Homo sapiens: one gene and its partners. The protein of the gene in region 5 purifies or fractionates together with the protein of the main gene of each other region. This does not show direct contact. Each region holds a gene or a part of one and is shown on either strand. Other genes may lie near its edges.

Region 1 (3,889 bases), on a different chromosome or scaffold from region 5:
GAACTAGTGCATCCTACCTGGGTTACTGGAATGTAGAGAGGTTCTCCATTATGCAGCAGTGTAAGTTTCCCATGCTGATAGAGCCGTCCTTCCGGCCTTAAATTTGCCATCTCCTTAGGTCCTCCTTTCTTGCCACTCTCTTGTCCATTTCCTTTAAGTTCTTCAGTATCACTTAGGCATTCAAAAAATTCTTCTTCGCTGTCACTCCAGGAATCCCAAGATTTTCCTACCTCTCCCTTTTCCTTATCTGTTTCTTTTAGATTATCTGGCACCAACTGGTCTCCTGCTTTTCCAGCATCCCCTGGATATATATTAGTGACATCTGAAGCACTTGTCTTTTTCCCCTCATCACGTGCCTTCTTTCTTTCAATACAACAATTTAACATCTTAAGAAAAGAGAAATAACATTTATAGTTGAATTAGTTACAGAAAAATAAAAATCTACCTACTGCTTGAATATTTAATTTTCACTCTCCACTTCTCAGGACCTTGTGAATTGCAGTGACTACTGACTATAGGCAACCTACAGCAGCACCATGAGAACAGCATGTAACCCATTATTACATTTAGTATTAGAATAATCTGATTAAATCAAGACCACATTTATCCATGTCATTGAGAAATCTTTACCTGTAGTTTCTGATGCAGTAAACAACACCTCAGATCTGGGGGTCCACTTGCTAATCTATCAAATAAAGTAAGGAGAAAAGAAAGCTTAGTTTTAGTAAAATTGCTTCAGATATGATTATTTTCTATACTACCATAATTTTTAGCTATATTGATAAGAAATCAAAACTAGATTTCCACAGGTAAGGTAAGTGAATTCCAGAGGGGGAGCACATAGAATTAAAAGATGAAAATTTATTTTATACTCCTTGTCCACAAATCACCAATAGCAAATATAATAGATATTTCAAAACATAACAGCAAATTAGTGATAGTTTTCAGGCTAACAAAAACTCAAAATGAGAAAAAGCCCCTGAACCCACTCCAGGAAGTACTAGCATACAGTATTTCACACCATACAAAATAAATCAGTTTGTGTATTCAGTACTAAATTCTTACAGTGGATTCTCACTATAAAAACCAAGATCTCCACCTGTATTTCAATAGGACCTTGGACTGTCTCTAGTTCTAGGTTCCTCTAGACTACTAGGTTCCCAGCAATCAGCCAGAGGCACTCCCTCATATTCAACATGCTTCTGGGTCTGTAAAATGTTCCAGAGCGGACTGTCTAAAACCAAGAGAGAATCCAGCTAAGCAGAGATTGGCAAATGATATAAATGTTTTTGGATCAGTAATCATTTTATATTGCTCAAAATCATGATTCTCCTATCATAGCATGGGTAGATGAGCACTAAACTATGCAATATCAACCTATGTGCTAATGAAAATGTTCTGTTTGATTAAGTAAAATGTCAATTACAAAAAACAGGTTTATTACAAAAGACTTTGAAAATGCATAAAAGTATAAAGAACAAAATAAAAGTATAATTTCACACTGGGAAAAACTGATAGCATTTCACAGTATTTATAATATTTTTCCTGTACAAATATAGCAACATAATTAAAAGTACTTTGTATATGCATTAAAATATTCTACTTTATTAGAAACAATATGAACATCTGTTATTAAAGATTATTGGGGGAAAAACTGTAATCAATCTAATTTTCTATTGTAGAGATACAGTATAATTTATTTAACTATTCTTTTATGTTTGATATTTAGGTTTTGCCTTTTTTTCTATTATATTAATAAATTTGCTGCAGTGAACACCTCTGAACATAAATCATGTCTAAGCTTCTTGCCACTTTCTTAGGGCAGACTTCCTAGAAGGGGGAAAAAATAGGTCAAAAGTCAAATGTCTGCTAACAAACAAAATCGTATCCAAACAATTGAAAATTGAAATTATTACCCTGGAATCAGAAAGTTGTTTTCCCATCGGAAACGCATTTCAAGAACAAATTCCTGCCAGAGGTGTGCCACTCCTTTCAACCCTCCATGGTAAAAATTGATCATACAGAGACACAAAGCCAGTTTGTATGTTAAACTGTCAGATGGTGCAGACTTGAACTGATTGTAGAGATTCTAAATTTAACAAAATAGAAACAAAGCAAACTTGTTACCAAAATATTTTACACATATAACTGAAAAGGTCGTAGGGAGAGATTTTAATTGTAAAATTAACCTATCCCACCTAAACTAGGCATTATCAAATGTCTAATACACTACTGCATAAACTATTCTTAGGAAGTCCCACATTTTCAAGATTTCTACTAAGATTAAAAAAGATAAAGCTATAGTTTAATGAAGCTAAAGTTACAGCTTTCAATTTCTTCTGTGGAATATTTAGGAAGTATTCCAAATTTCATGTGTTGTTTTAAAAATCTTTTAATTACAAAAATGAGCACGTCTGAAAAAACAAAAATCATAACTATCTAAACTGAAAATGTAAAAAGCCTTTGCTTTTTTCTCTCACCTCATCAAATCTACTTCTCAACAATAACTACTGTAAAGGTTGATATATATCTACACTTGTCATTTAAATTCTTCAACTTCTTAATTTTTCAAAGACTAGACAAAGAGACCATGAAAATTTTACCTAATTTTACACATTTTACTTCATTAAAGAGTTGTCCATTCACTAACTAGTTTTAAAATATCAAAAAGAATCTGCTGAGAAACACAAATTTAATGATTTCACCAAAACTCTACAATGAGGGAAATCCTACAGCTGTGTAGAGTATATTTGTGCTATTTTTTCATTGTTTCCAGAAAAATTCTTGCTACCCAAAATATGTATCTGTGCTAGTTATCTAAGTGGAAACCACGATCTGCCATCCAAAATTCCCAAGGTGATTTTTAAAATAAAAATATAGTAAGCTATTAAACTAGAAATATATAGAACCTCTAGAAATTCAGTGCATTTAAAACATTTTAACATTGAACTCCACATCAACTTACATAGTCTTCACTCTCTGATGGAGGATTATTATTATCTGTTGAAGTAGTTCCATCTAATGGTTTCTCAGAAACAGCATCAGGGAATAAGAACTTGAAGGAAAGGAAAAAAATAATCACATTTTAGACCACATTTCCTATTTTGTTGATTTTTATAACTCATATAGACATTATTTAACTTTTTAATGGTTTTGCTGCTCTAACAATAGAAATGTTCCAGTTGTATTGGCCAGTTTGTTCTACACTCTCAAATTTTTTCTATTTTTCTTTGAAAATATACAAGGTTTCAGTGACTAGCCAATTTTAGAAATTAGAATTTTTTTCTTAAAAGTAATCACTTGATTCTGTAAGCTGAAAGGTGCAAAAGCAAAATCTCATCACTGTGACTTCATGCTCACCCAAGGCCATTACATTTTTTTAGTGTTACTACTATCTAAAAAACAAAACCACAAAAGACAATTTAAAAACACTCATGTACTCATGAGGATCTGAAGAGTTACATCATCCACAGGCTTTCATATATAGACTACTAAGAGATGATATTCAAGACCCACAGCTTTATTTTATGATACCCCTGGAAAGTAGGAAGCAGTCTAAACCTATAATAACCAATGTACCTTTTCCATGTGGTTTCTGTTTATATGTACATGTACGAGTGGTCAAAAAAAAATCCAGTGTACATGACAACTGAGCTACATGATTTGAATAACATTCTTTTAAGAATACAGTCTTAAGAAGGAGGCTCTCTATAGACATTTATTTACAGTCCTTTTATCACTGTTCCTCTCAATTGTTTTGTGGTACTGCTGATTAGTAATCCCTCTTACTATGTATACTTTGCCACACATTATAGAACATGTCCAATAGACTTTTAAAAATTAGATGAACTACTATGTGCCAAGTGCCATAAGGCACAATTACCAGCAT
Region 2 (4,619 bases), on a different chromosome or scaffold from region 5:
TTTATTTTTCCTCCTTCTTGACTCCTATACAAAAAATTTTAAAAAGTATTTGCTTCTGTAACATTTTATTGCACTTGTTTTACATGTGTGGGTCCCTTTATTTCATCATAATTATTTTGAAATCAGGGCTGTGGTTTAGTTTTCTTTATATCCTTAAAACCCAGACAGTGTTTGGAATACTGTACGTATTTATTAAAAATTGGCTGGATATATTATTATGTGGAATTTTTTTTTTTTTTGAGACAGAGTCTCGCTCTGTCGCCCAGGCTGGAGTGCAGTGGTGCCATCTTGGCTCACTGCAACCTCTCCCTCCTGGGTTCAAGTGATTCTCCTGCCTCAACCTCCCGAGTAGCTGGGATTACAGGTACCTGCCACCATGTCCAGCTATTTTTTGTACTTTTAGTAGAGACGGAGCTTCACCATGTTGGCCAAGCTGGTCTTGAGCCCCTGACCTCAGGTGATCTGCCCACCTCGGCCTCCCAAAGTGTTGGGATTACAGGCATGAGCCACCGCGCCTGGCCATGGATATTAATTGAACATTCATTCAACGAACATTTATTGAACACCTGTTATAAGTGTTGGGGATACCAAGCATCTAGTGCATAATTTAGCAAAACAGATAGTTTAAAGAAAATAGTGTTAATACTTACCCCATGATATGGCAAGTACTTAGCGAATGTATCAATTGAGTGGTTTGATAGGTGGGGGAAGTGAGAGGTGATAGGGTGATAGTGGTGGTGAGTTAGAAAAAGTCTCTCACAGGCAGTACTGTTGGAATGATTATTTTCGGTAAGTTTACCAGGTAAATTCTTTGTGGATTAGGTAATGAATTTTATTAACCATTGCATCTTTGAAGCTTAGCACAGAGATTATACTTAGTAATGTAAGTATATTGGTGGAACAAACAGAACCCATAAAACATTTTGGGTTCAGCCTATTGACTTCATTGTATCGGTACAATTTTTCTCCATGTTGGGAATAGCTGGAGAGAAATTGAGAAATCAAGAAGGATGTTGATGCTTTTTAAAGAGTGTGGATGTATCCTATAGGCAACTGGGCTAGGAGAAGCTTTTAAGCAGGAAAGTTGTAGGACCAACTTTGTTTATTAGGAAGAAAATAGAATTGGAGGGTAAAGAGATCAAAAGTCAGAAAATGTTGGGAGATCATTGCCTGGGTGAGCGATGATGTTGGGTTTTTGTGACAGCAAAAATGGAGAGGAAGGGCTGAATTCTGAGAGTTTTTAAGCCTATAAGATGTAGTGACGATGAGATGAGGGAGGAAAGATGGAGAAAGTGAAAATGAGAACAACAGGGTTTGTTATGAGGCTTGTGGGCGATAACGTATGTGACAGCAATCTATAAACCCAAAATATTGCACACGGTTGTTTTTATTATCTTTTTCTAGTTGCTCTGAGTTTAGATTGAGAAGGTGGCTGTACTTTTGGAGACGTGTTCATATCTAAGGAAGATACCAAATTTCGGATTAGGTTTTTATTTCGGAGACTTTTCAAGGAACATGAGAAGATTATCTGAGAAGATTATCTGCGCAGACAGGCCGAGCGACGGAAAGAACTCAGTTCAGCTCCATCTCAGGAAACACCTGATCTCCACGAGCTTTTGAGGAAGCCCGGAGCCACAGAGCCCCACCCACTTCTTTCCCGACCGCGCCATCCTTCCTCACTCCCGGCCTCCTCTCTAGCCAATCACCGCTCAGTTTAACGTCATCACCGAGCGCCATCAGGGAGCGTGTCAGAGGCCGACCACGTGTACTGTGGAGACTGTCAAAGTCTCCCGGAGCCCAATTTCCGGAAGCGGTGAGTTCTGAAAGAAGTTCCTGCACCGTAGTTTCCCAAGTCTGCGAATCCCCAACCATGAGCGCCTCGGGCGTACTGTCCTTTACCCAGCAAGGATGGGAGCAGGTGCTGGCCAAAGTGAAACGGGCTGTGGTTTACCTGGACGCCGCCTGCGCCGAGAGCCTGCACTGGGGCTGCGGATCCACCCGTCTCCTGGAGGCGGTGGGGGGTCCTGACTGTCACCTGCGAGAGTTCGAGCCCGACGCAATTGGTGGTGGAGCCAAGCAGCCCAAGGCAGTGTTTGTGCTGAGCTGCCTGCTGAAAGGCCGGACCGTGGAGATCCTACGGGACATCATCTGCCGCAGTCACTTCCAGTATTGTGTGGTGGTCACAACCGTGAGCCACGCTGTCCACCTCACAGCTAATCATGTCCCAGCGGCGGCAGCGGCCGAGATGGAGGGGCAGCAGCCGGTGTTCGAGCAGCTGGAGGAGAAGCTGTGTGAATGGATGGGCAACATGAACTACACGGCCGAGGTGTTCCATGTCCCGTTATTGCTTGCCCCTGTTGCTCCCCACTTTGCCTTGACTCCAGCTTTTGCATCCCTTTTCCCACTGCTACCCCAGGATGTGCACCTCCTTAATAGCGCCCGACCGGACAAGAGGAAGCTGGGAAGCCTGGGTGATGTGGACTCCACTACGCTAACCCCAGAGCTGCTGCTGCAGATCAGATGCCTAGTGTCAGGCCTCAGTTCTCTGTGTGAACATTTAGGAGTACGGGAGGAGTGTTTTGCTGTAGGTTCCTTAAGTCAGGTCATCGCTGCGGATCTGGCCAATTATGCCCCTGCAAAGAACAGGAAGAAGACTGCTGCAGGCAGGGCATCAGTGGTTTTTGTGGACAGAACCCTGGATCTCACAGGTAAGTGCATTGCTCTGGAGTTCTTCATTACCATTCCCCACATTGCTGGGACTTTCATTGATTCAGCATATATTTTATTGACCTTTTATTATATATTAGATTGAGGATACAAAGATGAACTAGATGGACACGGTCTCTAATCTCACAGAGTTTATTGTCTAAAGTGGAATACAGACAGGTGAATTAGCAATTACAATAACATTTGTTAAATGCTGTAATGGGTAGAAATGTCATAAATGCCCATTGCCTTGTTAAACAACAACTTTAGCCCAAGATTATGCTGACAGGGAGGAAAACTGTGCACCTGGGAAATTTTATTTTTAGAAATTTACGAATGCCAGTATTCACAACAGTCCTTCATAAGAAGACTCTGGTTTGTTGGAGAAGTGTTAATAGATGACCCAGCGGAAGGAAAACTACTGCACAAGAAAACATAAAATTATTACAGACAATTGAGGTTTAGGAAATGAGTGTTCAAAAGTGAGGCTGAACTTAAATGTTACTAGTAAATGAGATGAAATAGAATTGTAGAAAATATTTTCAAATGTTTATTGATTTATTTTTAGCTCTCATTGTATTAAAGATTAAGTAAATAATCTCAAATTGTAATAATGTATTATTTACACAAAAGAAACAAATGTAATCCTTAAAGCAGATGAAGAAAAGACACTTTCTGATGTTTGATATGTTATTTTCAAAGGTCAACTTTATTGTTCTCTAATTAGGTTGTATAATACTGTTAGTAATATAGCCTAGCCACTTCCAAGTCCAGGGAGAATAATCGGAAAACTGACATTGGTAGGCATTCCCTTTAATCGGTCAGAAAAAAAGTTGAATTAAGTTATAAAAAACGAAATAGGTATATTTGAGTTTTTAATCTTAATAAGATTAATTTTCAGATAAAAAATGGAAAGTAGGCTAAATGGTAATACTGAGATGTAAACTTAATTATGTGACTGGAAAAACCAGGTGTCCAGTCTGTGATTTAAATATATAAGTAATAACTGTAGCATCACAGAGTCCATAGGGGATTAAAAGATAAAACCTGATAAGTAGATGCTTGTTGAGTTTTTTTGTGGATGCTATATATTACTGTTACTTCTATCTCTTTATGCCAAAAATGTAGCAAAGTTGTTTCATAATCAACTGGGAAGTTCACATAATTTTGTACCCTCCCCTAAGACTTCTGTTAGGCAAAACTTAATATCCCACTGTCCAGCATCATAGTAACAGCTCTTTACATCTTCAGTAGGTAATGCTTTTTTTTTTTTTTTTTTGAGACGGAGTCTCTCTCTGTCGCCCAGGCTGGAGTGCAATGGCGCAATCTCGCGAGGCTCACTGCAAGCTCCGCCTCCCGGGTTCACGCCATTCTCCTGCCTCAACCTCCCGAGTAGCTGGGACTACAGGCGCCCGCCACTACGCCGGGCTAACTTTTCGTATTTTTAGTAGAGACGGGGTTTCACCGTGGTCTCGATCTCCTGACCTCGCGTGATCCACCCGCCTCGGCCTCCCAAAGTGCTGGGATTACAGGCGTGAGCCACCGCGCCCTTTTTTTAAACATACAGAATAAATAAGGTGAGCATAACTTCTGCCCTCTAAAAGTTTACAATATAATGTAGTCAAGTATCAATATAACGTAGTCAAGTATGATTTAGAGCCCGGCACAGTGGCTCATGCCTGTAATCCCATCACTTTGGGAGGCTGAGGGGGGCAGACTGCTTGAGCTCAGGAGTTTGAGATCAACCTGGGCAACACAGCAAAACTCAATCTCTACAGAAAATTTAAAAATTAAATAAAAAATGAAAAAACTAGCCAGGTGTGGTGACCTGTAGTCCCAGCCACTCAGGAGGCTAAGGTGGAGGATAACTTGAGCCCAGAAGGCAGAGGTTGCAGTGAACCACCATCACATCC
Region 3 (4,550 bases), on a different chromosome or scaffold from region 5:
AGCCCACCTGAAGGAACCAACTCCTGACACAGAAGCACAGGCCATCTCCCTAGGCCCAGCTGCCTTTTGAGGGTGCTCCCAGGTGTCCACAGTTTAAGATCACCGAGTATCTGCTCTAGTTAGAAGGATGCATCAAGGAATGGGAAGCATTGGCTGAGGGGAACCACTAAGAAACACCTGCCTGGGCTGGCCTTTCCCCTGGGTGTGTCCACAGACAGCTTTTGCCCAAGAATTTCAGTATAGGTGAGAAACAGGAGAGATGGGTGGGGCTGTGTCGGGCGTTGGTTCCTTCCGGCGGGTATGGTCTCACTGACTTCAAGAATGGAGCCGTGGACCTTCCCGCTGTTATAGCTCTTAAAGGAATAACACTCTTTGCAGACCCAAAGAATGAGCAGCAGCAAGGTTTAGTGTGACGAGCAAAAGAACAATGCTTCCACAGCCTGTAAGGGAACTGGAGCGGGTTGCAGCAGCTGGCTGGGGTGGCCAGCTTTTATTGTCTTAGTTGTCCCTGCCCACGTCCTGCTGATTGGCTCATTTTACAAACCTCTAGCTAGCTACAGAGCGCCAATTGGTGCGTTTTTACAGAGCACTGATTGGTGCATTTTACAAACCTCTAGATACAGAAAAGTTCTCTAGGTCCCCATTCGACCCATCAACTCCAGCTGGCTTCACCTCTCAGGGCTATGAGACTTCCGTCCCTTCTTGCGGGTCTTTCAATAAGTCCCTTTCCTCTCTTAGCTAGGGTTCTCCAAAAACCACGAAGAGGAAGACTTCCCTACGTCCGAACTGGGGCACTTCTGCGTTTCTTCCCTTTCCCTCCACCGTTGTTCTGGGTAGGGCTCCACATTTCCCTAAGCACTCTGGCCACCCCCTGCCCCAAGGCAGCTACTTTGGGTTGTGCAAGGTAAGGTCCATGGCGATAAGATTCACGTTGGCAGGTCCGGCAGCCCCGGGCCCTGTAAGTGATGCGGCGTGTGGGGCGGGGGCCGGGGCGGAGCCGGCGGCCGGTGGCACCACACATACGGACCAATCGCCGTCCCCGCCGCGGCATTCCCGGCCCCAAATCACACTGCGGGAAGCTCCAGCGTTGGTGCCTGTTTCGTCTGCGCATGCGCCGGGACACGCCTGCGCCCTTGGCCGCAGTCAGGGCTCCCGAGTGGTCACTCTGGTTGACCCGCGCAAGCTCTGGCCTCGCCCACTAGGCTGGTCGCGTCAGAGGGTGGGGCGGGTCTTCGCCCCGCAGCGTCTAAGCTCTGCTGCGACGTTATGGGAACCTGGTGACCCGCGGCACACTCTGGGACGCCAGGGTAGTGGATAGGGACAGTGGAGGGCATCACGCTGCAGGGCACGGGATCAGAGGGGGATGCAAGGGGAGGGGACGCCATTCTGGCCGCCAAGGGGGAAACGCGGTGAAGGGAACGCCCCGACTTTCGAGTCCCTAGGACTGAGTCCCCAGGACTCCAACCCAGCAGAGAGGCGCCGGGGCCTTAGCTCTGAGGGCTGTGGTCTAGAAAGGGAAGCAGCAGGCCTGGGGCTGGGGCGCGCGCCGACCCCGCAGTGAGACCAAGGGAAGAAGGGACAGGACCCCGCGAAGGGCCTACCGCCCCAGAGCGTAAACAGCGGTCCGCTCCGCGGAATAGCTGAAGACCTCGCTGGCCTGCGGCTCAGTGGCCTCCCCGGCGATTCGAGAACAGCTCTGGGGGTCCTCGCTAAGTGTATGCCATTCCCAATCCCTTATGTACGCCAGCGGCCGCTTGCCCTCCCCGGCCAGCGCTGTCCCTTCCGCGTCCTCCAGTCTTCACACGACGCAGGGGTCCCCAAGGCAGCGGTCTCCCCAAGCTTCCCGTTTCAGCCCCATCCTCGAGAATGGGCTCCTTTCCTGCTCCCTCTCCGCTCCTGCTGGCGAGTGGAGACCGGCACCTAGGTCCAGACGCGGCTGCGCTGCCTCTCCTAGCCATCGAGACAGGATGTGACTCCCTCCCCTGGCCACTGACCCCCTCCCTCCCCAGGCGGCCTGCATCCTTGCTCTCCTCCCTCCTAGCCTACCCAGCTCGGGGTTCTGTCCCCGCCCAGAGACCTGAGGCTCGGGGCTGCAGATGGAATGCACGGCAGGGAGGCGGGACCCTTTGTTTGTGTGTGCGTGTTGTTGGCCTCCATCCCCACTCCCCAGACTCCACTTCTCCAGGCCTCTCTCCCGCCTTTTCATCCCGCATCCGCAGGACACCCAATCACCGGGCAACAGGTATGATCAGGCGCCTCCGGGCTTTCCTCCGAATTAGTCGGTGTTTGGCTCGGAGTGCGTAACTCTGTCTCCCCTGCACTCAGCCTCCGGTCCCGCCCTCTCCTGTGCCCCCGCCTGGCTGCGCTCACCGTGGCATCCTGCCCGGCGTAGTGGCTGATGACCCGGGAGCCCCCTGGATGCCGGCGGGTGAACTCGCTGATGTTGTACACCTTACGGTCGATCACTAGCCACCGCTCCTCGCACCCTGAGCGCTGGGCCACCTCGTCCCAGGTGAAGTAGCGCGGGGTAGGTCCCTGAGCCGCGGTCTCGGCGGCCACCGGGTCGGGGGCCATAGCTGGCCTGGCGACGCCGCGCGCCGGGCCAGCAGGGGCTGTCAGGCGCGTGCTCGGGGTCCGCGGGCTCCAGGAGTGGATTTGCTGGCGCGCGCCCAGAGCCAGCCGCCTGCGCGCCGGGTTTTCAGCACCGCAGGGCAGACCGGCGGGCCTCGCAGCGCGCGTTCCCATTGGCCGAGCCTCGTGGCGCGGGGAGCGAGATCCCGTCCCCCGGTGGGTCTTGGGCAACTCACAGCTGGGCTGCCAACACGCGCCCCCTCGCGGGCTCCCTAAAGGCGTCGCCGCCGGATTCGACTTCCTGACGTCAGGCGGGCATCGCGGCGTTGGCTCCCAGGGGGCGCCGCGGTAGGAACAGCGGTTCTAGTGCAGGCCCTGGGTGCGGGGCCGCGCTGCAGGAGTGAATGGACTGAGGGGCCAGGGCTGCGGGGTGGCCGCAGGAAGGGTGGGCGGGGCCGGGGTTGAGGTTTTTCCGTGCACGAGGCTGCCCGGGCGGTCGCGGACATCATCTTTAGGCTGTGGATGCCTTGGCCGGGGTCTCCAGACGCTGACCCTCCAGGGTTGGAAACTACTGCCTGCTTGCCACGTCGTGCCGCCAATTGTGCTGCCCGAAGTAGCAGCCTGAGAGCCCTTGAAAGTTGCAGTTATCTTGTGAACAGCATATTTACGGTCTCTTGGGCTTGGTGGTGGTTGGGGGAGGGCTGTTAATGCTTTAATTTGTTCAATGAAACATTTAAAATGCCCCACAATTTTTATAACCCTGTTTGCCTCTTTTTGTTTTTATTTTTATTGTATTTTGGAAAAATTCACTGGGATCCTTGAGTGATGATCCTAGCGTCTCCTGACCCTTAGGTGTTTCACCTGAAAAGCCTGGGTCTTCAAGCTGAGGCATTTCTGTTCTAGCCTGGAGGCGCCTAGGAGCCCTGGGAGACTTTTTAAGCAGAGAGATTTGGCATTTAGATCTCTGGGTTTTAGAGGAGTGGGAACGCACCTAAAAGTGGGGTTGCCAGTTACAAAGCTGTTGCAGTCCTGAAGAGACCCAGAGTTTAGGTCCAAAATTTTATTTATTCAACAAACACTTTATAAAGCACTTACTGTGTGCCAGGCACTGTTCTTAGCGTTTTGCAAACCTTAACTCATTTAATTCTCCTAACAACCCTATGAGGTTGGAACAATTAACCTAATTTACAGTGAAGAAACTGAGCCCGGGGGAGGTTATTTTGTCACACAGCTTGTAAGTGGAGGGCTGAGATTTGACCCTGGCCTGTGCTCTGAACTCTCAGGCTCTGCCATATTTCTCATTACACTGGTATTTGGGCACTTCAAAGGGAAAGGAAACATAACTGTCCCAAGCACTGAGCTAGATTCTGAGCACGTAGGAGTCAGGAGAGGGTGATACAGAATAGACTAGGTGAAATATGGCTAGATTTCTGGTAGAAAAGGATTAATTCATTCCATCCAAATTCTTCATTTTATAGATAAGAAAATTGAGGTTCGAAATGGGGAAGGGGCTTACCAAGTTCCCATAGGGAAGTTTAGATGTCCTGACTTCCAGGTAAGATGCCAGGCTATTGGACCCTGCTCAGGAATGATGGTCCACACAGCTGCACCTCTGTACAGCCAATATTCCTTTTTTAAAAACCTTGCCCAACAACTTGGCAGTGTCTAATGCGAGCTACAAAACATTTTCTATTCTTTGATCAAGCAGTTTCACTCTTGGTAAAGTAGGGGAGACTGTGCAAAGATGCAGAAATAGCCAATTTAATAGCAAAAACTGGAAATAAACCCGAGTCCTGACAATAAGAAAATCGCCAAGCTTATTGGGATCTGTTAACACAATGAAGAATTAAAGAATGATTTTAAATGGCTAGAATGTGAACTATATTGATAGATATAGAATCCTTCCCCGTGAAATAAGCAGAACCCAAAGTAGTATGGGTTCGCTGATTACAACTATATAAGAAATTCATGGGTATTAA
Region 4 (3,889 bases), on a different chromosome or scaffold from region 5:
CTCAAATTATTGTGACATGATATTTCATAACTTTACTAGTAGAATCCTTCCCTGTGTTATTAAATATCCACTAAAGTCTCTAGTAAAGGGAATATGATTTACAGAACAAATTTAATGTGTTAGTTTAATTGGTGTTAATTTAATTATAATTGGTGAACTATTACATACTTTTCTTAGTTCCTGTTTTTTTGTTTTTTCTTTACAGCAAAGTATCCAGAGATAAAGTCCTTGATGAAACCTGATCCCAATTTGATATGGATTATAATTATGATGGTTCTCACCCAGTTGGGTGCATTTTACATAGTAAAAGACTTGGACTGGAAATGGGTCATATTTGGGGCCTATGCGTTTGGCAGTTGCATTAACCACTCAATGACTCTGGCTATTCATGAGATTGCCCACAATGCTGCCTTTGGCAACTGCAAAGCAATGTGGAATCGCTGGTTTGGAATGTTTGCTAATCTTCCTATTGGGATTCCATATTCAATTTCCTTTAAGAGGTATCACATGGATCATCATCGGTACCTTGGAGCTGATGGCGTCGATGTAGATATTCCTACCGATTTTGAGGGCTGGTTCTTCTGTACCGCTTTCAGAAAGTTTATATGGGTTATTCTTCAGCCTCTCTTTTATGCCTTTCGACCTCTGTTCATCAACCCCAAACCAATTACGTATCTGGAAGTTATCAATACCGTGGCACAGGTCACTTTTGACATTTTAATTTATTACTTTTTGGGAATTAAATCCTTAGTCTACATGTTGGCAGCATCTTTACTTGGCCTGGGTTTGCACCCAATTTCTGGACATTTTATAGCTGAGCATTACATGTTCTTAAAGGGTCATGAAACTTACTCATATTATGGGCCTCTGAATTTACTTACCTTCAATGTGGGTTATCATAATGAACATCATGATTTCCCCAACATTCCTGGAAAAAGTCTTCCACTGGTAAGTAAAGGATTTGATACATATTCTAATTTTGTTTTTTCATTTGTTTGTTTTTTGAGACGGTGTCTCACTCAGTCGCCCAGGCTGGCGGGCAGTGGCACGATCTCGGCTCACTGTAACCTCCACCTCCCGGGTTCAAACGATTCTCATGCCTCAGTCTCCCAAGTAGTTGGGATTACAGGCGCATGCTACCACGCCCAGCTAATTTTTGTATTTTTAGTAGAGATGGGGTTTTGCCATGTTGGCCAGGCTAGTATTTTGTCAGTCCAAGCAGTTCATTAAAAAAAAAAAAAACAAAAAGAGCAAGAATATAAATACTGCATCTTCCAGCCTACTTTTACAAAGGGTTCACTCTTGGGTCCTTAAGCTTAGTGGTTACACTTAGGATTTATTTTTAATTTTATTTTTTAACTTTATGTTTTTTTAGAGACAGGGTCTTGCCCTGTCACCTAGTCTAGAGTGCAGTGGTACGATAGCTCACTGCAGCCTCAACTCCTGGGTCAAGCGATCCTCCCACCTCAGCCTCCTGAGTAGGCAGGATTATAGGCACGTGCCACCATGCCTGGCTAATTTTTTATTTTTTGTAGAGGCAGGGTCTTGCTGTGTTGCTCAGGCTGGTCTCAAACTCCTGGATTCAAGTGATCCTCCTGCCTCAGCCTCCCAAGTAGCTAGGACTACAGCCACATGCTATGACAGGCTGATTTTTTAAATAATTTCTTTTAATCCTCCAAATGGTTTGTTAAAATTTTTAACATTTTTAACATTTTTATAGAGCTGGAGTTTCCTGGATGGGTGCAGTGGCTCACACCTGTAATCCCAGCACTTTGGGAGGCCTAGGTGAGTGGATCATCTGAGGTCAGGAGTTCGAGACCAGCCTGGCCAACATAGTGAAAGCCTGTCTCTACTAAAAATACAAAAAACTTAGCTGGGCATGGTGGCGGGTACCTATAGTCCCAGCTACTCGGGAGGCTGAGGCGGGAGAATCGTTTGAACTCGGGCAGTGGAGGTTGCAGTGAGCCGAGATTGTGCCACTGCACTCCAGCCTGGGTGACAGAGCGAAACTCCGTCTCAAAAAAAAAAAAAGAGAGAGATGGGTTTCCCTGTGTTGCCCAGGCTGGTCTCAAATTCCTGGGCTCAAGTGATTCTCTTGCCTTCCAGAATGATGCTGGGATTATACATACGAACCACTGTGCCCATCCAGATAGTTTTTTAACTTGAGATGAAAAGACATTTTTAACTTGAGATGGCAGAATTGCACATTTGATAAGTGCTTTTTTTTTTTTTTTTTTTTTTTTGAGATGGAGTCTCTCTCTCACCCAGGCTGGAGTGCAGTGGCACAATCTCGGCTCACTGCAACCTCCGCCTCCCGAGTTCAAGCAATTCTCCTATCTCAGCCTCCTGAGTTGCTGGGACTACAGGCGCACGCCACCATGTCTGGCTAATTTTTTTGTATTTTTAGTAGAGATGGGGTTTCACCATATTGGTTAGGCTGGTCTCGAACTCCTGACCTCAGGTGATCCACCCGCCTCGGCTTCCCAAAGTCCTGGGATTACAGGTATGAGCCACCGCACCCAGCCAAGTGCTTAATTTCTATCTAATTAGCATGCCACAATTTATTAGTATTTGTAAGTTCCTGGATGGCAGGGATCAGATGTTGCCTTTATATTCTATGGCGTCATCCATGCAGTACATTCTTTAATAATATCAAGTTAATCTAATTGTATGTATTTGTTGTTAATTTTACAAATAAGCCAGATATTTAGTCCCTTGGAATGTGATGGGAGAGAGACCTAGAGGGTCGAGTGTATTCAACTGCTGCTGAAATGTAGACTGCTTTTTGTTTAGAATTCCCACAGCTGCTGCTGCTGCTGCTTTTTTTTTTTTTTAAGAGAGAGGAGGGAGGCAGGTCTCATGGTTTCCCTTCTCAGTGTTTGTGTCAACCATTCATCAGTCATCTTTGAAAGAACCTAGTAACACTCATTTTTCATCTTGCTGTATTTTTTCCCTTCTAGGTGAGGAAAATAGCAGCTGAATACTATGACAACCTCCCTCACTACAATTCCTGGATAAAAGTACTGTATGATTTTGTGATGGATGATACAATAAGTCCCTACTCAAGAATGAAGAGGCACCAAAAAGGAGAGATGGTGCTGGAGTAAATATCATTAGTGCCAAAGGGATTCTTCTCCAAAACTTTAGATGATAAAATGGAATTTTTGCATTATTAAACTTGAGACCAGTGATGCTCAGAAGCTCCCCTGGCACAATTTCAGAGTAAGAGCTCGGTGATACCAAGAAGTGAATCTGGCTTTTAAACAGTCAGCCTGACTCTGTACTGCTCAGTTTCACTCACAGGAAACTTGTGACTTGTGTATTATCGTCATTGAGGATGTTTCACTCATGTCTGTCATTTTATAAGCATATCATTTAAAAAGCTTCTAAAAAGCTATTTCGCCAGGCACGGTGGCTCATGCCTATAATCCCAGCACTTTGGGAGGCCAAGGTGGGTGGATCACCTGAGGTCAGGAGTTCGAGACCAGCCTGGCCAACACGGTGAAACCCCATCTCTACTAAAAATGCAAAAATTAGCCGGGCGTGGCGGCACATGCCTGTAATCCCAGCTACATGGGAGGCTGAGGTGGGAGAATTGCTTGAACCCAGGAGGCGGAGGCAGAGGCTGCAGTGACCCAAGATTGTGCCACTGCACTCCACCCTGGGCAACAGAGCAAGACCCCATCTCAAAAATAAATAAATATATATAAAAAATAAAAAGCTATTTCTAGTTTATTTCACTATAAAGTTTTGCTTTATTAAAAAGCTAATAAACAGCTATTAATCACAGTGTATTAGTATTTGTTACATTTTTGTATTTCACTATCTTTATACTATATAATATGGTAACTTGGGTACCGGGGGAACTTTAAAATTTCATCTCAAAAAT
Region 5 (3,889 bases):
TTTCTTTATAAGTAGCAAGAAACCCAGCTGGAACTGGCTTAAGCCAAAAAGGAGTGTGTTGGCTCTAATCCAGCTTGAAGCACGGCTGGGTCCAGGTGCTTCCACTTTGTTAAAAATCATAACTCTCTCTGATGCTGCTTTTCTTGTTTTGGGGTAAAGGTAACTCCTGGCAGCTGCAAATGCAGGTTCCACTAGCCTAGGAGCTGCCACCGAGAGAGCACCTTTTCCCAGTAGTTCAAACCAAACAGCAGAGATTGGCTCCCATTGGTCCCGGTTGAGTCAAATGCCTGCCCCCATGCCTCTGATTGGCCAGACCTGGGTCGCTTCTCCATTGCTGAGTGAATTACTGCACTCTGATTGACCAGGCCTGTTTCATAAAATGAGGATAATGATTATAGTATCTAACTCATAAGGTTATTGGCGGGGCTAAATAAATTAATATAGGACCAGGGGCAGTGGCTCATGTATGTAATCTCAGCACTTTGGGAGGCCATCGTGGGAGGATCACTCAACGCCAGGCGTTCAAGACCAGCCTGGGCAACATAGTGAGACCCCCCCGCCATCTCTACAAGAAAAAAAAAAATAGTCAGATATGGGGGCGTTGCCTGTAGTCTCAGTTACTCAGGAGGCTGAGAAGGGAGGATTGTTTGAGCCCAGGAATTGGAGGCTGCAGTGAGCTATGATGGCACCACTGCACTGCAGCCTGGGCAACACAGTGAGACTCTGACTCTAAAAAAAAATAAAGTAATAAAATTTAAAAGATAAATAAAAATGCAAATGCTTAGAGCAGGGCCTGGAACATAGCGAGAGCTGTGGCAGGGTGTGCCGTGGTTATTACTACAGGAGGCTTATTTCAGATGTGGTGGATAGGTGTCCACTTACTGAGTCAGCATGAAATTTATATTTCTTTTTCTTTTTTTTTTTTTGAGATGGAGTCTTGCTCTGTTGCCCAGGCTGGAGTGCAGTGGCACAATCTCAGCTCACTGCAACCTCCACCTCCCGGGTTCCAGCAATTCTCCTGCCTCAGCCTCCCGAGTGGCTGGGATTACAGACGCACACCACCACGACTGGCTAATTTTTTGTATTTTAGTAGAGACAGGGTTTCACCATGTTGCCCAGGCTGGTCTTGAACACCTGAGCTCAGGCAATCCACCCTCCTCGGCCTCCCAAAGTGCTAGGATTAGAGGCATGAACCACCCGTCCCGGCCTGAAATTTATATTTCTTGCCACAAGTTGAGGTCACCAAAGTCTGAGAAACCAGGCCCTTGGCAGTCCTCAACTAGAACAATCGACCCTTTGTGGTTCCTGAGCAGCCTTTTGTTGAGGACATCTTCTCCTGTGTCCCTGTCCTCCAGCTGCCACTGTCTCCCTCCTCAGGCAGCCAGGCCTGCTGCCCTGAGCCTCCCTCTCCTGCGGCAGGCGAGCAGCTGTCTGCAGCCATCTTTTAGCCTGGGCAGGCCCCAAAGACAACACAGGCAGTGGCTACAAAGCATTTGTTCCTTGTGTCCTCCTGCACCTGGATTCTGGGGTAATTGGCTCATGAGGGTGCCCAGGAGGAGATAGTAATGAAAAATAACAATTAGTTGAGGCCGGGAGTGGTGGTTCAGGCCTATAATCCCACCATTTTGGGAGGCTGAAAGCAGGAGGATCGCTTGAGGCCAGTAGGTCAAGACTAGCCTGGGCAATAAGCGAGACCCCCTCTCTGCAAAAATTTAAAGGTGAGGCTCCAACCCTCACCTCACTGCTCTAAAAATTTATTATTATTATTATTTTGAGACAGAGTCTCACTCTGTTACCCAGGCTGGAGTGCAGTGGCGCTATCATGGCTCACTGCAACCTCTGCCTCCCGGGTTCAAGCGATTCTCCTGCTTCAGCCTCCCGAGTAGCTGGGATTACAGGCGCGTGCCACCACGCCCGGCTAATTTTTGTACTTTTAGTAGAGACGGGGTTTCACCATGTTAGCCAGGCTGGTCTTGAACTCCTGACCTCAGGTGATCTGCCCCCCTCGGCCTCCCAAAGTGCTGGGATTACAGGAGTGAGCCACCGGGCCCGGCCCTAAAAATTTCTTTTTAACCACTTAATTGAGGCTTCACTATTTGCCAGGCACTGGGCTCAGCACTTTACAAGTGCCCTATTATTTGATATTCACATTATACCTGTAAGATCATTATGGAAGTGATCTGAACAGAGGAGGAAAAGGAGGCACAAAAAGGTCACGACTCAGTGTAGGGTCAAACAGTTGCCAAGTGGCAGAGCCAGGATTTGACCCCAGGTCCCCTGAATCCAGACCACATGTAGCCACCACTGGATTCAACCAGGCCTGGCCTGATGGCATCTCAGAGCTGAAGCTCAGGGCTGAAGCTGTGGCAGGCTTTGTGCTCTGTTCACCTTTGCTGTCCTCCCTTGGACAGGGCATCCCAGAGGCATCTGATCCACAGCATATCACACTTGTGCCTGTCTATCAGCTGATGGGCAGATGCCAGGGTACTATGGCCTGGTGGCTACTCACCAGCCACCAGCTAGCTATTTCTGCTCAGCCCAGGGTTCTTATCCTAAAGTGGCCTTTTCTCAAGTCCAAGTTGGTGTGATTTCCAACAGTGGATTCTCTTTTTTTTTTTTTTTTCCTTTTTTTGAGATGGAGTCTCGCTCTGTCACCCAGGCTAGAGTGCAATGGCATGATCTCGGCTCACTGCAACCTCCGCCTCCCGGGTTCAAGTGATTCTCCTGCCTCAGCCTCCCAAGTAGCTGAGATTACAGGCACGTGCCACCACGCCTGGCTAATTTTGTATTTTCAGTAGAGATGAGGTTTTGCCATGTTGGCCAGGCTGGGCTCAAACTCTTGACCTCAGATGACCCGCCTGCCTCAGCCTCCCAAAGTTCTGGGATTACAGGCATGAGCCACTGCACCCAGCCCAACACTGGATTCTTTATCCGCTGGCTGGCTCTTCCGCAGTTGATTGTGTGACTTCTTCCCCTATCTGAGCCCCAGTTTTCTCATTTATAAAATGGGGATGTTAACACCATCCCCGTCTAGATGATTGGAAGGCCCGTCATGCATCTGAGATGCTTGCCCCAGGGCCTGGCATGGAGTAAACGATGTCAGGGGCTGTGATGGGTGGTGCTATCGTAGGGACTGAGCAAACGGTGTCATATGGTGCATAAGTTCCTCTCCTCCAGGTCGCAGAGTCATCTGTTTGGTGGGAGCTGGAATCTCCACATGTAAGTAACCCTTCTCCCCCAGCAGCTACCCCCAGGAACTGGGGAGTCCCTCCCAAGGGCTGGGGAGGAGCCCTATCTGAGCCCTGTCCTGGGAGGGTTAGTATGGTATAGACCAACTGCTCCCTGACCCCCCTTTCCTAGCCGCAGGCATCCCCGACTTTCGCTCTCCATCCACCGGCCTCTATGACAACCTAGAGAAGTACCATCTTCCCTACCCAGAGGCCATCTTTGAGATCAGCTATTTCAAGGTTTGTGCTCCCCCAGGAAGGGGCGTCTGTGAGGGGTGGGGATGGGGTCACCTGGCTCCAACCCTCACGCTACCTGGGGCATCTGGCCCTCTGGCTGTCTCTCCTACAGAAACATCCGGAACCCTTCTTCGCCCTCGCCAAGGAACTCTATCCTGGGCAGTTCAAGGTGAGATCTTTGTTTTGCAGGGGGCGAAACAGGAAGGGTTGGGGGAGGGCACGCATGAGAAGCCCCGCCAAGGCCCTGCAGACAAATATTATGTAGCCATTAAGTACATGGGTGCTGGGCCCAGACTGCCTCGGTTCAAGTCCTGGTTCCTCGTGTCTTCATCTTACGACCTTGAGCCTCCGATTTGCCTCCTGTGAAGTGAAGCTAATGGTACTGTCTGAAGAGGGCTGCTGCGAGGCTTAGCTGACTAATGATG
Region 6 (3,889 bases), on a different chromosome or scaffold from region 5:
TGTTGTTGTTTTTTGAAACAAGGTCTCACTTTGTTACCCAGGCTGGAGTGCAGTGGCGCAATCTCAGCTTACTACAGCCTCAACCTCCTGGGTTCCAGCGATCCTCCTGCCTCAGCCTCCCAAGTAGCTGGGACTATAGGCGTGTGCCACCACACCTGGCTAATTTTTGTATTTTGTGTACAGACGGGGTTTTGCCATGTTGCCCAGGCTGGTCTTGAACTCCTGAGCTCAAGCGATCTGCCCGCCTCAGCCTCCCAAAGTGCTAGGATTACAGGCATGAGCCAGCCACCACGCCTGGCCTTTCGCTCACTCTTTACCTTGCCATCTGTTACTTATTCTTCAGGTCTTAAATCAGACATCACTTGTTCTGGGAAGTCTTTCTGGTTACCCTTTGGCAAATCTCCATTTCGTGCCTCATCTATTAATGTGTCCCCAGAGCACCATGTACTGCCTTTAACTTTCCTGTCATCCTGTTTGCCATGCTGCACTGTAATTCCTTACACTGTGATCCCTATGAAGACTGGGACTTGGTGGTTTTGCTTTTTTGTATCCTCAGCATCCAGCACAGTAACTAACTCAAAGTGGATACTCAAATGTTGAGAATTTGGTAGAAAAGATGTTTGCTTTAAGAACTTAGGAAAAAGCAAAGAAAACCATATGGCCTATTGGGGGTTAATCTTAATTACATCCTCCTCCTAAGATGTCATCTCTTGTTCATGCTTTAAGAGTCCAATTATGCTTTTGCAGCTATCGTTCTAATGGGTAATACACATGCTGTTGTGCTATGTAGCTAGAATAGAGATCTTTTTATTTCTTATGTACTTCTATCAGTTTGACTTGAAAGAAACAGGTATATTGGGAAGGGGAAGAGGGAGAAGAGACTGTATCCGTAAGTAATATGGTGACATTGGCAGTACTGAACGTGCTTATACATAGATAGAAGATAGAAGTAAAAGTGATGTTGCTTATAACCACAGTAAGTTTTATATCTTTTATTCTACAGTTATTTGTTTCATTACATCTGCCAAGACAGGATTGTATATCTTTGTATCACTGATGATGTAAGTAACTTGAAGACATATTGCTATTTAACTATGTGTACTGTTAATACAGCCAGTTCTTAATTATCTATACCAGGGGTCCCCAACCCCCAGGCTGCAGACCGGTACAGGTCTGTGGCTTGTTAGGAACCAGGCCACATAGCAGGAGGTGAGTGGCCTATGAGCATTACCACCTGAGTTCTGCCTCCTGTCAGATCAGCAGCAGCATTAGATTCTCATATGAGTGTGAACCCTGTTGTGAACTCTGCATCCGAGGGATCTAAATTGCATGCTCCTTAGGAGAATCTAATGCCTGATGATCTGAGGTGGAACAGTTTAATCCCGAAACCATTCACCCTCCCCCAGTCCTTGGAAAAATTGTCTTCTACAAAACCGGTCCCTGGTGCCAAAAAGGTTGGGGACTGCTGATCTGTACCTATAGTGGGCAAACGTGATGCGAACTTTACATAGCTGGAATTGTTAATATTTTGCATTTGTCATATAGAGCAGCAAATGTTAAGAAAACTTGATACTGGGGTATGTGCAAATCAACTCAATTTTGGTAGAGTTTTAGCTTAGCCTCTTGCAACTTCTATATTTATTCTATTTTGTAGTGAGAATTGATGTTCATAATTATAATTCTTTGATATCAAAACCTCTCAAAAATTGTTTACGTGGAATGTTAAATTAGATAGCATCATTTCTTCTATCAGTAGTTAATGAATCCTTTAATGTATGTGAACTTTGGAAAAACAAAATTACAATACATTATGATCAGCTATATAAACCTGTAGTTTACATTGGTTAGGTATGACTGTTTGTCGGCTCTCAGCCCAAAATTCTCAGTAACTTAATGATGTCATTAAGGTCCTTTCTCTTCTCTGCTTATCTCCGTGTCTCCTTCTTCCCAGACAGGTTGCCATTATGGTTTCGTAGAGCTACATACTTATTTATTCATGTCCGGAGTAGAGGGACTGTGTCTTCTTGAGTGTCTTATTGTAGGAATGAGGAAGCTTTTCCCAGCTGCATGCCCTCCCCTCCCCCTGCTTTCAAAGTGAACTTCCTTTCATGTCTTATTGGCTGCATGCTCATTTCTAAACTGCCTACTGGCAAAGAGACTTGGAATTGGCATGGTTGCCATAGATCAGGGTTCCTAATCTTTATTGTATCACAGACTCGTCACTTGTGGGACACTCCCAGAATGTTTTTGTTTTCTTTTTTTAATTTTCCTTTTCCAGAATGCTTTTAAATGTATAAAACACACACAATTCTAACAAAGCCAATTATATTGAAATATATATATATATAGTATTCAAAATATTTTAAAAACTTGATGTAGTAATATATATGCTTCTTTATGAACTCATTAACAAGATCTAGTCATAGGTCTAATAACTAATAGTCTTGATGTGATGGGTGTTGACAGTATTTTGAGATATCTGTAACTGTGATGGTATACAAAAAAAGATTTCTGTTGGTGACAGTTACAGGTACTGTTTAATACTACCCCGATTATGAATATACAACCTATATTCACAATTGAAATATAAGTTAACGATTGATAAAAATAATGATGTGATTTTCTTTTTTTCTATCCAAGTTCAAAGGCCCCTTGAATTTGGACCATTGACCCCAATTTAAGAACCCTTGGCTTAGACTAAGCATCTTGGGTGAAAGGGAAATGACTGTCAACCATAGTGATCATCACAATGATTTTTATCTCTGGCTTCACAATATTTTCCAAAAGTACGAAAAAATCTAGCTATATGTGAAATGACTGATGTGAAACAGCTTGGAATAGAAGGAAAATACTAATGAAATCTGGGATAGTTAGAGTCGAGCCTCATATTTCTTGAGCTATAATTTGATACACACATATACATGTATACATAAACACACATACACACATTCATTTTTTTCCTCTAAGGTATTCTTACAGAGAACACACATACTTTTTGGCTGGCTGGGATTAGACATGAGTATGTCACTTGATCTTTTCAAATATACCACCACTATTGAAAAAATTCGATTTGAAGTTAATATCAGTAGTAGTATCTGTATGTGTGAAAGACTCTATGATTATTATGGGATTTATTAAACATATTCTTGTGCTGGGCCTTCTAATAGATCTTATGAAATATATGGAGGAAGTAAAATTCAATTCCTGATGTCAAGAAGTTGATAACCTAGGTATCATTATCTTCAGTTGTCAATGACCAGATATATCTGGATTCATTCTCAGCTCTTTCATTTACTAGTTGTTGGACCTTTGGACAAGTTAGTTACTTTTTCAGAGCCTTCCTTTACTTATCTTTAAGATAGGATCAATGCTAGTTCCTCCTCAGATAATCATTGCTCAGTAAATGTTAGCTGTTTTTTATTGTTGTTCTTAATCACTCACATCATCTTTGTTTACTTTCTAAATGTGAGTTCTGTGTTGATCTCTTTTCAGGATTTTGAACGTTCCCGAGCCTTTAATTTTCTGAATGAGATAAAGAAGAGGTTCCAGACTACTTACGGTTCAAGAGCACAGACAGCACTTCCATATGCCATGAATAGCGAGTTCTCAAGTGTCTTAGCTGCACAGCTGGTAAGATCTTTCTCAGGATAAGGTATTTTGATTTATATCTTCTTCATTACCTTCAAACACTATGAATCTAGGGGGCCCTGACCTGCAATATAGTTTTCTGATTGTGTTACTGTAAGCCAACATAATAAAACTTCCCTGATTAAAAAAAAAATGTAAAGGGGCCATTTTAGGGTAGAAAACAGTGATAGTCTTTATTATCTCTATTAATAGTGGTCACAGTGTCTCATGATTGGAAGAGCATTAAAGATCATCTAGTTGA
Region 7 (3,889 bases), on a different chromosome or scaffold from region 5:
TCAGTCAGAAGTTGGCTGATCTAGGATTTGCTCCATGTTTCTTTTCCTCGTTGGACCAGCAGGCTAGCTGAGGCATGTTATCCTCATGACAGTGGCAGAGGCATAAGAGGAAAAGTGGGAAAACACACAATCTCTTACAGCCCAGGCTCAAAACTAGATTGCCAGTTCTGCTTCATTCTAGTACAGCTGGATATTGGGGTCGAAAGTGCAGTTTTCCATGAATATTAATTAAAGTTTGAAATGAGGCTGGGCATGGAGGCTCACACCTGTAATACCAGCACTTTGGGAGGCCAAGGCGGGAGGATCACGAGGTCAGGAGTTTGAGAGCGGCCTGCCCAACATGGTGAAACCCCATCTCTACTAAAACTACAAAAATTAGCCAGGCGTGGTGGCACGCGCCTGTACTCCCAGCTACTCAGGAGGCTGAGGCAGGAGAATCGCTTGAACCTGGGAGGTGGAGTTTGCAGTGAGCTGAGATTGTGCCACCACACTCCAGGCTGGGTGACAGAGCAAGACTCTGTCTCAAAAAAAAAAAAAAAAAAAAAAAGTTTGAAATGAAAGTACATACATGAGATAACATTCTAGTGTTCACACTCAAGTGTGAATATGCTCAGATAATCTAGTGTAAATGACTGCTGGAAAAGATATTAGTGCTTTCTCTGCTTTTTCAGGGCTCTGAACTCAGAAGAGATAAGAGTTGTTTTTTTTTAACTACCTACTTAACAATTTTACTTAAAGGTAGTTCTGTTTGCTTTAACTGTGACTAAATAAACACAGTACAAGCCAGAGTACCTGGAATATTTATCGCAACTCTAATCTTCAGTATTTAAATAATATTTTACTTGAAAGGTGGTGGAATCATGAAAACATGGTAGTGCCAAAGTGAAGACCCATGTGTAGCTTTTTGCTAGAGTTTTCATTTCAAAAAATGATCTCTGATTCATCAGCATGAATTTCCAAGTTTGGGGTACAGGGCAATGCACTTTCCTCAGTTTATTTATATTATTGTTTTTAAAAATTTGCAATACTTACCAAAGATAAAGGATTTGTTAGAAACAGCTTTTGGAAGAGGAGCAGTGATATAGGTTTATTTTACTAATGATAATAGTAAGTAAATTATAAAGAACCTTTAATGTTTTCTGAGAAAGTAAAGCCTATTCTTGGAGTTTATAATCATTTAAGTGGTTCTGGACAAAACTTACCAAATTCTTTACTGTTATTACTAAAAAGAATGTTAACAATTTTAAGAAAACAAAAAAATTATTTTTTAAGAATTTTGTTTATCGGTTGATATACTCATTGCCAAACCAGATTAAAGTAATATTCCAATTGGATTGGCTTCTTCTAAGCTCTACTTCTAAGGAAATTGTTTGGATTGATTTGCTGTCTGTGCTTTGAGAATGACTTTTTTCCCCTCCTCCTTTTTTTTAAAGCAAACTTTGCGTAACTTATTGAGCAAGGTTTCCCCTTCCTTTTCTGCCGAACTTAAACAACTAAATCAACAGTATGAAAAATTATTTCATAAATGGATGCTGCAATTACAGTAAGTATTATCATTACAAACCCTTGTAAAATAAAGAATAATATTTACATGAATCTTTATGTTAAAGTAAGTTAACATTTTTCTTTTTACAGTGAGTTTCAGATATTTAGTCATATATAAAAATAAATGTAAAAATAGACATTATGACTCAGATATAGAAATGTCACTTTATTGTATGACTCTTCCCAGAAATTCTACAGTTTTTAAGAAATTTGTGTTTATCAGACTTGACAGCCATTGATAAGATAAATAGCATTTCTTAGAATTATGTTATTGGTTTAAAAAACTTGAATATTTCCTTTGTCAAGATTAATAAATATAACAATTAGAAAAAAAAATTATAAAGTTTTCCACAGCATAGTTCTTTAAATGAAAGGATAATATTTACTTTAATCTTATGTATGTGTACTACAGACTTTCAGAATTTTATGAACAGATTTGTTCTATAAGCATTATTTTACTATTTTAACATTATTTCCTAGAATATTTTTTCACTGTTATTATTTTCACACACCTCAGATTAAATTTTAAATTTCCATTAAAACACCTAGAAGAATGATTGAAATCAAAACATAATACTTTCTTTTTATGATAATTACTTTTATCCTTGCAGTTAAAAAGACTTGAACATAAGGAAGTGCTTAAAATGTACACTAATGTGAATATACATGCACACTCACAGTTACATTGTCACTGAGGTAAATAAGAAGGTAGAGCCATGGACCAGGCACTTGGCCTCCCATAATCCCAGTGCTTTGGGAGGCCAAGGCAGGAGGATTGCTTGAGCCCAGGGGTTTGAGAGACTCTGTCTTAAAAAAAAAAAAAAAAAAAAGTTATGCTAGGAAGGGAATGATTAACTTGCCTGCAAGAACCTCAGCTTCTCTCAATAACTATTTATGGATCTATGCATTATAAATTTGTAAGCTCTTCATTCTAATCCCATCCCCAGCCCATCATTTTTTTCTCCCAGCGTGTCAACTTAGATAACTTAATTTGCTTTGCTTCTCAGATTAGACCTTATAGTCAGCAAGTTTGTTGGAATTGCTAGCTCTCTGAATTCCTTGCCTCTTTATTTCTGCTGCTTTGACCTTGGTAATCTCTACCTTTGGAGGTTACCTCTTTTCTGTTCTTCCATTTCTAGGTTATCCTGCATTGCCAGAGAGCATCACATAAATACTGTTTCTGCTTGACCTTTGTAAACAATCACGGAGTTGGACTTTAGCTTGACCTCTAGTGCTTGGTGTTCTGGGTGGTCTCATTCACCCTTCTGGCTTCAGTTGTTTTCTGTATATGAATGACTCATGTAACTGTTAACCTCCAACCCATACCTCACTCTCAGTAGCAGACCTGGATATCTGAATGTATATTAGAAGTTTATACTTGGGTGTCCTGTAAATAATTCAACATACATAAAATTAAACTCATCTGAAATCCACTGTTCCCACCTGCCCCTGCTATCCAGCAGAGTGAATGACTGAATGTTAGTCACTCCATTTGTGTAGTTGCCTATGGCAGAAAACTGAGTCATTCTTTTTTTTTTTTCTTTTCTTTTTAAGAGACAGTCTCACTCTGTCACCCAGAATGGTGTGAATACAGCTCAAGGAGCCCCAACCTCCTGGGTTCAAGCAATCCTCCCACCTCAGCTTCCCAAATAGCTGGGTCCATAGATGTGTGCCACCATGCCTGGGCTAATTTTTTTTATTTTTTATTGTGTAGAGATGAGGTCTCACCATCTTGCCTAGGCTGGTCTCAAACCCCTGGGCACAAGCAATTCTCTGCCTTGGCTTCCAAAACTGCTGGGATTACAGGTGTGAGCCACAGCGCCCAGCCCTGAGTCATTCTTAAGTATTCTTTTCCTCACTCTCCACATCTAATCAGTCTCCAACTCTTACTGGTTTGACTTTCTATAAAGTTCTTGACATTTTAACATTTTTCTCCATGACAGCTAAGTTAATCTTCCACAGTTTTGTTCCTTCCTGTCCATTCCCCAAATATAATCAATGTGATCTTTCTGAAAAGAACATGTTACTTTCCTACTTAAAACCTTTCTGTTAACCCCTCATTAGTTACTTTTAAATGCTCATTCTTGGCTGGGCACGGTGGCTCACGTCTGTAATTCCAGCACTTTGGGAGGCCAAGGTGGGTGGATCACCTGAGGTCAGGAGTTCCAGACCAGCCTGACCAACATAGTGAAATCCTGTCTCTACTAAAAATACAAAGTTAGCCGGGCTTAGTGGTGCATGCCTGTAATCCCAGCTACTTGGGAGGGTGAGGCAGGAGAATTGCTTGAACGCGGGAGGCAGTGAGCCAAAATCGCACCACTGCACTCCAGCCTGGGTGACAGAG

The links.
Region 1: the proteins of SIRT2 (region 5) and RAB3GAP1 purify together in Homo sapiens (affinity purification with mass spectrometry; 3 studies listed by BioGRID and IntAct, with this or other methods). This does not show direct contact.
Region 2: the proteins of SIRT2 (region 5) and SCFD2 purify together in Homo sapiens (affinity purification with mass spectrometry; 3 studies listed by BioGRID and IntAct, with this or other methods). This does not show direct contact.
Region 3: the proteins of SIRT2 (region 5) and FADS1 purify together in Homo sapiens (affinity purification with mass spectrometry; 3 studies listed by BioGRID and IntAct, with this or other methods). This does not show direct contact.
Region 4: the proteins of SIRT2 (region 5) and DEGS1 purify together in Homo sapiens (affinity purification with mass spectrometry; 3 studies listed by BioGRID and IntAct, with this or other methods). This does not show direct contact.
Region 6: the proteins of SIRT2 (region 5) and VAMP7 purify together in Homo sapiens (affinity purification with mass spectrometry; 3 studies listed by BioGRID and IntAct, with this or other methods). This does not show direct contact.
Region 7: the proteins of SIRT2 (region 5) and ORC2 purify together in Homo sapiens (affinity purification with mass spectrometry; 3 studies listed by BioGRID and IntAct, with this or other methods). This does not show direct contact.

What each region holds. Positions count from the first base shown.
Region 1 is NC_000002.12:135,132,061-135,135,949, reverse strand, and holds part of RAB3GAP1 (rab3 GTPase-activating protein catalytic subunit), read right to left. Parts: intron 3,056-3,889; coding exon 2,966-3,055; intron 2,090-2,965; coding exon 1,917-2,089; intron 686-1,916; coding exon 631-685; intron 387-630; coding exon 18-386; intron 1-17. UniProt on the Homo sapiens protein: Catalytic subunit of the Rab3 GTPase-activating (Rab3GAP) complex composed of RAB3GAP1 and RAB3GAP2, which has GTPase-activating protein (GAP) activity towards various Rab3 subfamily members (RAB3A, RAB3B, RAB3C and RAB3D), RAB5A and RAB43, and guanine nucleotide exchange factor (GEF) activity towards RAB18.
Region 2 is NC_000004.12:53,363,193-53,367,811, reverse strand, and holds the start of SCFD2 (sec1 family domain-containing protein 2), read left to right. Parts: upstream 1-1,750; 5' UTR 1,751-1,870; coding exon 1,871-2,708; intron 2,709-4,619. UniProt on the Homo sapiens protein: May be involved in protein transport.
Region 3 is NC_000011.10:61,814,185-61,818,734, forward strand, and holds the start of FADS1 (acyl-CoA (8-3)-desaturase), read right to left. Parts: upstream 2,820-4,550; 5' UTR 2,746-2,819; coding exon 2,371-2,745; exon of another isoform or gene 2,243-2,370; coding exon of another isoform or gene 2,102-2,242; exon of another isoform or gene 2,019-2,101; intron 1,067-2,018; exon of another isoform or gene 1,052-1,066; coding exon of another isoform or gene 890-1,051; exon of another isoform or gene 673-889; intron 1-672.
Region 4 is NC_000001.11:224,189,372-224,193,260, forward strand, and holds part of DEGS1 (sphingolipid delta(4)-desaturase DES1), read left to right. Parts: intron 1-205; coding exon 206-948; intron 949-1,720; coding exon of another isoform or gene 1,721-1,762; exon of another isoform or gene 1,763-1,785; intron 1,786-2,960; coding exon 2,961-3,107; 3' UTR 3,108-3,889. UniProt on the Homo sapiens protein: Has sphingolipid-delta-4-desaturase activity. Converts D-erythro-sphinganine to D-erythro-sphingosine (E-sphing-4-enine). Catalyzes the equilibrium isomerization of retinols.
Region 5 is NC_000019.10:38,889,433-38,893,321, reverse strand, and holds part of SIRT2 (NAD-dependent protein deacetylase sirtuin-2), read left to right. Parts: intron 1-3,177; coding exon 3,178-3,219; intron 3,220-3,360; coding exon 3,361-3,467; intron 3,468-3,576; coding exon 3,577-3,633; intron 3,634-3,889. UniProt on the Homo sapiens protein: NAD-dependent protein deacetylase, which deacetylates internal lysines on histone and alpha-tubulin as well as many other proteins such as key transcription factors.
Region 6 is NC_000023.11:155,894,620-155,898,508, forward strand, and holds part of VAMP7 (vesicle-associated membrane protein 7), read left to right. Parts: intron 1-1,003; coding exon 1,004-1,061; intron 1,062-3,492; coding exon 3,493-3,630; intron 3,631-3,889. UniProt on the Homo sapiens protein: Involved in the targeting and/or fusion of transport vesicles to their target membrane during transport of proteins from the early endosome to the lysosome. Required for heterotypic fusion of late endosomes with lysosomes and homotypic lysosomal fusion.
Region 7 is NC_000002.12:200,928,993-200,932,881, reverse strand, and holds part of ORC2 (origin recognition complex subunit 2), read left to right. Parts: intron 1-1,433; coding exon 1,434-1,543; intron 1,544-3,889. UniProt on the Homo sapiens protein: Component of the origin recognition complex (ORC) that binds origins of replication. DNA-binding is ATP-dependent. The specific DNA sequences that define origins of replication have not been identified yet.